2 separate regions of the Homo sapiens genome follow, and region 1 is linked to region 2. Evidence: fine-mapped expression QTL. A gene starts in region 2. The other region holds a variant in brackets. All regions are shown on one strand. Distances are between the middles of the regions. Region 1 overlaps LGI2 (leucine rich repeat LGI family member 2). Region 2 holds the start of LGI2 (leucine rich repeat LGI family member 2).

What was found. PIP is the estimated chance that this variant, and not a neighbour inherited with it, causes the effect. A credible set is the group of variants that fine-mapping cannot tell apart.
Region 1: its variant is the best candidate, but not a certain one, in a credible set for the expression of LGI2 in lung (TOPMed, PIP 0.86).

What each region holds. Positions count from the first base shown.
Region 1 is chr4:25,002,056-25,006,441 of GRCh38, reverse strand. LGI2 (leucine rich repeat LGI family member 2) reads left to right here. Exons shown (of 8, transcript NM_018176.4): 8 at 2,174-4,386. The coding sequence ends at 2,991. The region is part of intron 4 of LOC102723675 (a long non-coding RNA gene); the gene reads right to left. Among named protein-coding and RNA genes, the nearest start is that of LGI2, 27 kb to the left of the region's middle. The variant C/T (reference allele first, on the strand shown) is at 2,610.
Region 2 is chr4:25,028,959-25,033,344 of GRCh38, reverse strand. LGI2 (leucine rich repeat LGI family member 2) reads left to right here and starts at 2,399. Exons shown (of 8, transcript NM_018176.4): 1 at 2,399-2,848. The coding sequence starts at 2,652. It overlaps LOC124900684 (a long non-coding RNA gene), which reads right to left and starts at 3,237. Exons shown (of 2, transcript XR_007058083.1): 1 at 3,112-3,237.

The DNA.
Region 1 (4,386 bases), 27 kb after region 2:
AAATGGAATCATCCTTAGAATTTGGGATTCTGGCCAAATTCACTTTGGTCCAAATTACCTAGAAAATTAAAGGAAAGAAATAACCTTTAATGGAGTGATCTAGATGGAGGATCAGTGGTCTCGTAGGTGGTCCTTTGCTTAGTGGTTGGTCTTCTGGAATGGGGAGGTCTGGGGGGCATCTGGGTGCAGGGTGATAAGGGATGGTGGGAGGTGAGCCAGAGGGGAGAGTCACCACGGAAAATGGTCCCCTGCCTCTGCAAAGTCTTAGTTTTATGACGTCTGAGCTAGATCATTCAGACTATTGCTCCTTCTTTAGATACTTATGCATGCCCACTATGGGCAAGCACTAAGGGGCAAGGTCTTGTGATTATAGTGACAATTGCTTCAATTGTTCAATAATGATAGCCACTAATGAGCAATCACCCGCTAGGTGCCAGTGCTCCATGCTAAAAACGCTTGCCATGAATGATCTCATTTCATCCTTATAGTCACTTGTAAGATCAGTGCTGGCAGCATCTTCAGTCTCATTTTACGAATGAGGAACTTGAGCACAGAGAGTTGGGTTAACCAGCACAGGGTCAGAAAGCTTACAAGGTGCGGGGCTGGGCTTTGAACCCTAGGCCACCTGGTCTGTGTCATAAGGTTTAATCCTACTCTTTCTGCCTCCACTTGGCTTCCTTTAGCTCTGGAAATCAAAAGAGCCCAAATGTCTTCAAGAACACTCAGAAATCTTTTTCTCCTGCCTCTGAGACCTCACTCCTGCCTTTTTATCATCCCTTACCCCCCGCAACCCCCCACCACCCCAGGAGAAGCCTGTTTAACTGCCTCCTTCTGCCATATGGAGTCAGGAAATACTTTTTTTTTTTCAAGGATACACATTTTTTAAACTGACAAATTAAAATTGTATCTATTTATTTGTGTATAAAATGTTGTTTTGAAATATGTATACATTGTGGAATGGCTAAATCAAGCTAATTAATGTAGCTTTATTTAAAAACATGATGATAATTCCCTTGGTGCGTTAGTGAGTTTCCTGAATTGTATGCCTGCCTCTGAGGACTCCAGAGGCCCTGAAGACCTCACTCAGCCATTTCTACGGAAGCACATTTTTAAACAACTTAAAAAAATTGTTTTAATTGTGGCAACATACACATAGCACAAAATGTACTGTCTTAACCATGTTTTAGTATACTGGTCAGTGGCATTAGGTACATTCACAGTGTTGTACAACTAACGTCCAAACGCTTTTCATCTTGAAAAACTGAAACTCTGTGCCATTAAATGACAACTCCTCATTTGCCCCATCCCACAGCCCCTGAAAACCACTCTTTGCCTTTCTGTCTCTATGCATCTGACTGCTCTAGGTACCTCATATAAGTGGAATCATATAGTATTCGTCTTTTTGTGACTGGCTATTTCACTTAGCCTAATGCCCTCAAAGTCCATCCATGTTGTAGCATATGTCAGAATTTTCCTCCTTTTAGGGCTGAATAATATTCCATTTTATGTATATGCCACATTTTGTCTATCTATTTGTCCATTGAAGCAACTTGGGTTGCTTCCACCTTTCGGCTATTGTGAAGGATGATGTTATAGGTGTCTTAGTCTGTTTGGGCTGCTGCAACAGAATACCGTAGACTGAGTGGCTTATAAGCAACAGAAATTTATTTCTCATAGTTCTGGGCCTGGGAAGTCCAAGATCAAGACATTGGCAGATTTGGTATGTGGCAAGAACCCACTGCATAGCTGGCCACCTCTTTGCTGTGTCTATGTGGTGAAAGGGCAGAGGGAGTTGGAAGGCACTAATCCCATTCCTGAGGACTCTGCTCCCATGACCTAATCACCTCCCAAAGGCCCCACCACCAAATACCATCACATTGGAGATGAGGTTTCATCATATGCATTTGGAGAGAGCACAAACATTTGGTCTATAGCATTAGGTGTACAGATATCTCTTTGAGTCACTGCTTTCAATTATTTTGGGTATATACAAAGAAGTGGAATTGCTGGCTCATAGGGTAATTCCATGTTTAATTTTTCAAGGAACCACCATACTGTTTTCCATAGTGGCTGTGCCATTTCACACTCCCACCAGCAGTGTATAAGAGTACAAGCGGAGATGCGTTTTTAGCTGTAGTTGCACTAATGTCCTCTCCTTTATTTTGGAGCACAGGTCAGTCCATCGTGGGCTGTAAGGCCATTCTCATCGATGATCAGGTCTTTGTGGTGGTAGCCCAGCTCTTCGGTGGCTCTCACATTTACAAATACGACGAGAGTTGGACCAAATTTGTCAAATTCCAAGACATAGAGGTCTCTCGCATTTCCAAGCCCAATGACATCGAGCTGTTTCAGATCGACGACGAGACGTTCTTTGTCATCGCAGACAGCTCAAAGGCTGGTCTGTCCACAGTTTATAAATGGAACAGCAAAGGATTCTATTCTTACCAGTCACTGCACGAGTGGTTCAGGGACACGGATGCGGAGTTTGTTGATATCGATGGAAAATCGCATCTCATCCTGTCCAGCCGCTCCCAGGTCCCCATCATCCTCCAGTGGAATAAAAGCTCTAAGAAGTTTGTCCCCCATGGTGACATCCCCAACATGGAGGA[C/T]GTACTGGCTGTGAAGAGCTTCCGAATGCAAAATACCCTCTACCTTTCCCTTACCCGCTTCATCGGGGACTCCCGGGTCATGAGGTGGAACAGTAAGCAGTTTGTGGAGATCCAAGCTCTTCCATCCCGGGGGGCCATGACCCTGCAGCCCTTTTCTTTTAAAGATAATCACTACCTGGCCCTGGGGAGTGACTATACATTCTCTCAGATATACCAGTGGGATAAAGAGAAGCAGCTATTCAAAAAGTTTAAGGAGATTTACGTGCAGGCGCCTCGTTCATTCACAGCTGTCTCCACCGACAGGAGAGATTTCTTTTTTGCATCCAGTTTCAAAGGGAAAACAAAGATTTTTGAACATATAATTGTTGACTTAAGTTTGTGAAGGTGTGGTGGGTGAAACTAAGAGAAATGTAGCATTAGCTCTCACAAAAGAGGACCAAGAAAAATCAACAAACAAATCAAAGCCAGGCTCAGAGCTCTGAAATTAAAAAGCACTGAAATAGTTAGATGTTTTCAAACTTTTAGAACTCACATTTTAATCAGGGATTGCATTTATTGGCTAACTGCATGACATGCCCATTCTACCATTTAAAAAAAAATCTTAAAGCCTGTAATTTCTGAGAAAAGAGTACAGCATTTACTCTTATCATCTAGAAATGTAATATGCTTCCCCCCCGCTTTTTGATGAGGAAGAAGACAATTGGATAAGATGGGACAGCACTTATAATGAAATAAAAAAAAACTTTGAGCCCCTCTCATTCCACTTTAGCAATCTTTTTGGTAAGAACTCTTAAAGCCAAAAGTCTGCTGAAAAGATTTGCTGATTATTAGTTTAAAAATCTTGTAACACTCAGCAGTGCTATTTTGAGTCATCCCAGTTTCCTGAAAGTAATGCCCAGTCTTCCTGAATCCTCCTTAATAGCAGAACCTTGGTGATTTTGTTGGCTCATATGAATGCTTGTCATGGATATGTTAACAATTTAGTGTTTGACATTGCTTCCTCTGCCACAAAGACAATACTCTGGTGACACATGTCTAGACCCAGCACAGGCTGTAGGCCCAGGAGTGACTCAAAGGAGTTTTTCCCTCTTTCTTACGGTTCAAAGGTGACCCTGGTGGTGGCCAGAGCAGTAATGCTTGTTTGATGCTCTTCATGGCTCATCTGCTTCTCAGAACCCACCCGTTGAGTTTGTGGGTAACCAGCAGGCAGGCCAAAGACTGGTGCTTTTCATTTCATCCTTTAGAGGGATGAAACAGTTATTTCCGTCTGATGAGCATTCGGTAGAATTTTTGAAGTGAGATTTTATGAAGTCAAAGGGGACTTTACACAGATCTCGACCTGCTTTGAAACCTAGAGGTGGCCCTTTGATTTGTGCGTGTCCTTGCCCTCTGGACAACTTAATATTTCAAGTAATCGAATACCAACTTCCCTGCCAGCCCACCTGCCTTCCGCCCCGCTTGTGTAACAGTCCTGTTTTGTTGAGTTGCTGCTATTGCACTGCCAGTGCAGCCCACACCAAATCACAACCCAAGATACTCAGATAGGAAGACTCCTTCCTCTCCCAGTACTTTACCAAAGGAACCCCCGCCAGGACCCACATGGGGCCACGTGTTGGCAGTGGAATCAGCCTGTGCAGGCTGGGGATCTCAGGCTGATCAGTAGGGGCCAGCTTTGGAGCCAGCCAAGCTGAATCCCACACTCCAGGTCTGTGCTCAAGAGACCAGATGGTGTATTTCCAAATGGGCCTCTCTGGTATGGGCAATAGGCAAGCTCCTG
Region 2 (4,386 bases):
TCCAGAACACTAAGCCAGGCTCTCTCAACCTTGGCTCTAGCAACATTTTGACCTGGATCATTCTTGCTGAGTACTGCAAGATGTTTAGTAGCGTCCCCAGCCTCTACACATTAGACGCCAGGGGCACCCACCCCAAATATCTCCACACATGGCCAAGTGTCCCCTGAATTACCCGCAATTGAGAACCACAACACAAGACAGTGACTCTGATTACAATGGAAGGACAGAAGTCAGGAAAACCCATCTCCCTCCATAGTCCTCTCTCCGTCACTTACCTACAATCTAGTCACATAGAACTCTGCTCAAACGCCCAGTGCCTCCTTTGTGGTATTAAATGCTTTACTTTCTTGATCTCATTTAACCCCCAAATGTGGTTACAACAACCTCTTGTTTACAGGTGAAGAAATGGAGGTTTAGAAAGATCACAGCTTGCACAGCAGTAAGTGGCAGGCTGGGATTACACAATTACACATCAGTAAGTGGTAGGCTGGGATGCAAACCCCAACCTGTCTAGTCCTGAGGCCAGCATTTAGCTATGCCACCCTGCCCCCAGGCTCTCACTCAGAGGTGAGAAATAGATTTTCTTTTCCTGGGTCAGCAGGGAGTGCTCTGTTTGAGAAGCCTCCGTTCCTCTGCTCTATAAAGCAGTAGCCCATCCCTCTTAAGGGAAACATCTTTCAGGTGCACAGCACACACATCCACGATTGTGGGTCTGCATGTCTGTCGCCCTCCCAGGCTGTGGTCTGTGTCCTCAGCCCCTAACACTGGGGCTTGCTGAGTAAAGTATTTGTAAATGCATGCCCACACAGCAGCGAGGGTTAGACACAGCAGCCAGTTGTGGAGTATGATCTCCCTGGCCATGTCCTGTGTGATCTTGGACAAGATAAAAACTTCTCTGAGCTCAATGTTCCCATCCATAAAATGGGAGGACCCATTTCTCAGGACAGATGCAAGAATTAAATGATGATAAATGCAGGCTGGTTTGTACTGATGCCAGGTGCTTTTTACATAGTCACCAGCAGGGAATGTCTAACTCCCTCCATGAAGTTGCCTACGCAAAGCTCTCTTTCAATTCCTGAACCTCTTTTGGTCAGTCTGTGACCCCCTTGTAGCCAGTGGAGTTGCTCTTTTAGGGTTGTCTGTCCAGCTAGACTTTTAGCTCCCTGAGGACAGGAGCTGTTCCTTTGTTCCCTCCCACAGCAGCCAGCCTGATACCGTCCTCATGGATCTTGTCAATGGATCACCAACAATAATTGCTGAAGAAGCAATAGTATGATTCCTACTTTTGCATTCGATACTGACTTTTCTGAGTAGGTTTTAGCATCTGGCATGCTTTTCCTTGGTTTGCAGCTCGACAGTCGTGCTGTGATTCCCTTCTCCCAGCAGTTCAGGTTATTAGCCATTACTTTGTTTCCGCTTTGGTCATTTTCTTTGATTTCCTCAGCCGCACATTACCTGTGTTAAGATTTCCGCTCATTGCTTCAAACTTAAGGAGTTGAAGAGGGGCTCAGGAGGGCCCAGTTAAGGTAGCCCTTCAAGGCTCCGAGCCCCATCCTGCCCAGCCAGGAGCTGCTGGACCATCAGCCAGTCAGGATGCTTTCTGGGCGTCAGCAGCCTCATCAATAAATTAAGGATATAAGTAGGACCTGCCTCAAAAGGTTAGAAGATTAAAAGTACAGTGGCTAGAATGTATCACACCCTCAATCTCTACAAACCCTCCTCTGACTGGGGCGGGTGGGGTGACCCGTGGGCAGCTGAGCGAGGGGAAACTTTCCCGGGCTTTCCAGCTCTTTAGCAGGCAGCAGGCAGGGCCCAGAGCGCCGGGCGTGCAGGCTGCAGCGGCTTTGCTTCCCCACGTTCCTCCCATGGGAGGACTGGCTGGCTTCAGTAACCCCTGGTGCTGTGGGAGCGAGAGCCAGACCTCACTGCCCCACCGCAGAAGACAAGCAAAGCCATCCTCGCTGACCCTACCGGCAGCATGCACTTCAAAATTAATAAAGGCTGCTCCAAAGTCTCTCCTCTTCAAAGCACCCAGGGCTGCCTCCCTCCCCAGTAATCAAGCCGGTTCTCCACACTCCCCGCTCCGACTTTATTGATTTGCCTGAAAGGAACCCAGTGCCCTCCCCAGATTATACCCCTGGAGGTATTGCAGGCATCGGATCCTCCACCGCTCAGTCAGGCCCCGACGGGGGTCTCCGCCAGGCTTGGCCCCTCCCCCAAGGTCACCCAACTTTTCCCTCTGTCCCCGCGCCCGGCCCGGGGCGAGAGGGGGTGGCGAGGTGGGGGCCGGGTGGGGCGCCACGGGGCCGGCGCTGGCCCCCTCCCCCGCGGGGCGGGCCCCGCCATGCATTATTCATTGGCCAGAGCCGGGCTGCGGGCGCGAGTGCTGATGTCAGGCAGGCGCGAGTGCGGCGGGCGCAGCGGCGGCGGCCGCCCAGCAGCCCGGGCTCGGGTGGGGGGGCGCCGAGTGGGGGTGGCGGCCAGCATGCTGCTCGGCTGCGGCTCGGCCTCCCACACCCGCGGCTCCCTAGTCCTCGCCAGCAGCGGCGGCGGCAGAGCAGCGAGCGGCGCCCGCGTCTGCAGCGGCGCCGGGTCCGAGCGCGCGGCGCGGCGGTGGGGGTCGGGGCCCGGGCGGGGAGCGGGGACCGGGCATGGCGCTGCGGAGAGGCGGCTGCGGAGCGCTCGGGCTGCTGCTGCTGCTGCTGGGCGCCGCGTGCCTGATACCGCGGAGCGCGCAGGTGAGGCGGCTGGCGCGCTGCCCCGCCACTTGCAGCTGTACCAAGGAGTCTATCATCTGCGTGGGCTCTTCCTGGGTGCCCAGGATCGTGCCGGGCGACATCAGCTCCCTGTGAGTGGGACCCCTCCAGCCCCCATCCCGTCCCGCCCCACCCTGCGTCCGCCGCCGCGAGGGAGTTGCCTCTGGCGCCGGGCCAGCGCGACCCTGACCCACTCCCCAGGCCCCTTCTTTGCCTTTGTGTGGGGGACGTGGGTGGAGTGTTGGCCCCCGGGGAGGACGGTGAGGACCTGAGCCCCAGAATCTGGGAACCCAGACAGGTTCCTGTGGCAGCGTTTCTCAGAGTGTGGCCCACGGGCCACCTGCATCAGACTCACCTGGGGAAGCTTGTGCCAATGCAGAATCCAGCTGCTCTGAAGCAGTCTTTGGAGTGGAGTCCTGGAGTGTGCGTTTGACGTCCCCGGGAGACTCAAGGGTGCATTAAAGTTTGAGAGGGCGTGTGCGTGTGTGTGTGTGTGTTTGCGGGTTGGAGTTGTGTGTGTAGGGGCGTGCATAGGAGCAGCTGAACACGACCTGACTGAGTGCAAACTGGGCAGGGTGAGGCCTCACTGCCCCACATCAGGTCTGGGGCGAATGTTCACCCCGTGGCCTCCTCCCGACTTCTCCACATTGCAGGTTGCAAAAAGTCGAGGTCAAGGCATGCAGGCTCTGGGAGGGGAGGGGCCGCCCCCCGTGGCCTAGAAGAGGGGTAACAGAAGGCTGGGCAGAGGTTTGGGGCATGTTGGGCGCCTAGCCCAGTGGCCAAGTGCTTTGAAGTCAGCCTTCTTGCCCTGAGGTCAGGAGGGCTTCTTGCCCCCTTTCTCCATCACACAGTTGTGTTGGCTGCTTTTTCAGCAGGAGGAACTGACAGGAAAGGGCTTCACATTAGGTATCCACCTGCCGAGAGGTGCTTTCATCCTGCCCTCACCTGGCCACTCAAGCCAAATGACCAGCTCTCACAAGGGCGGTGGAAGGGGCTGTTGGGCTGTATCTTTACTGCTAGGACATGTTTCCTGCTAAGACCACTCTCTTGTTCCAGGCCAAGATGCCTGGGTGCCCAGTCAGTGGTGGAGGCAGGGAATCCCCGGGGTGACGTTGCTTGTGCTCAAGATACTTTCTTGTGTCCAGTGCTTCCCAGCCTCCCACCCAAGGCAAATTGTAGGGGCCTGGACCCAGGAGTGAGGGGGTTCCCATTTGCATTTATAGAAAGTCAGAAGAGTTTGGCTGGTGGGAACAGAGGACCTTTTTGATTCTTAATATTGCTAAGTCGGGTGACATGGAGGATTCCAGAAATTAGAGTTCCCCTTATTAAATCCTTCAGACCAGCAGCTGCTTAAGTGATCTGCATGCCAACTGAAAGGAATTCTGAAATAATGTATTCAGATCCTGCTGTGGCCAGAAAGGATGGGGGCCTGGGGGCAGAAATAAAGCCAAGCATCTTGCCTCCTGGTTGACCGTTTTATCTGGCAGATGGTACTGCCTCTCCCCACACAGGGGAGTTCAGGTGTCTGTGAGTTTTTCCCCAGGGCTTTCATGTTGCATTTAATCAGGAGTGCTCTGTCTTTCAGAGATGGGGTCCCAAGAGGAATGCTTAATCCTACCCCAGCATTTCA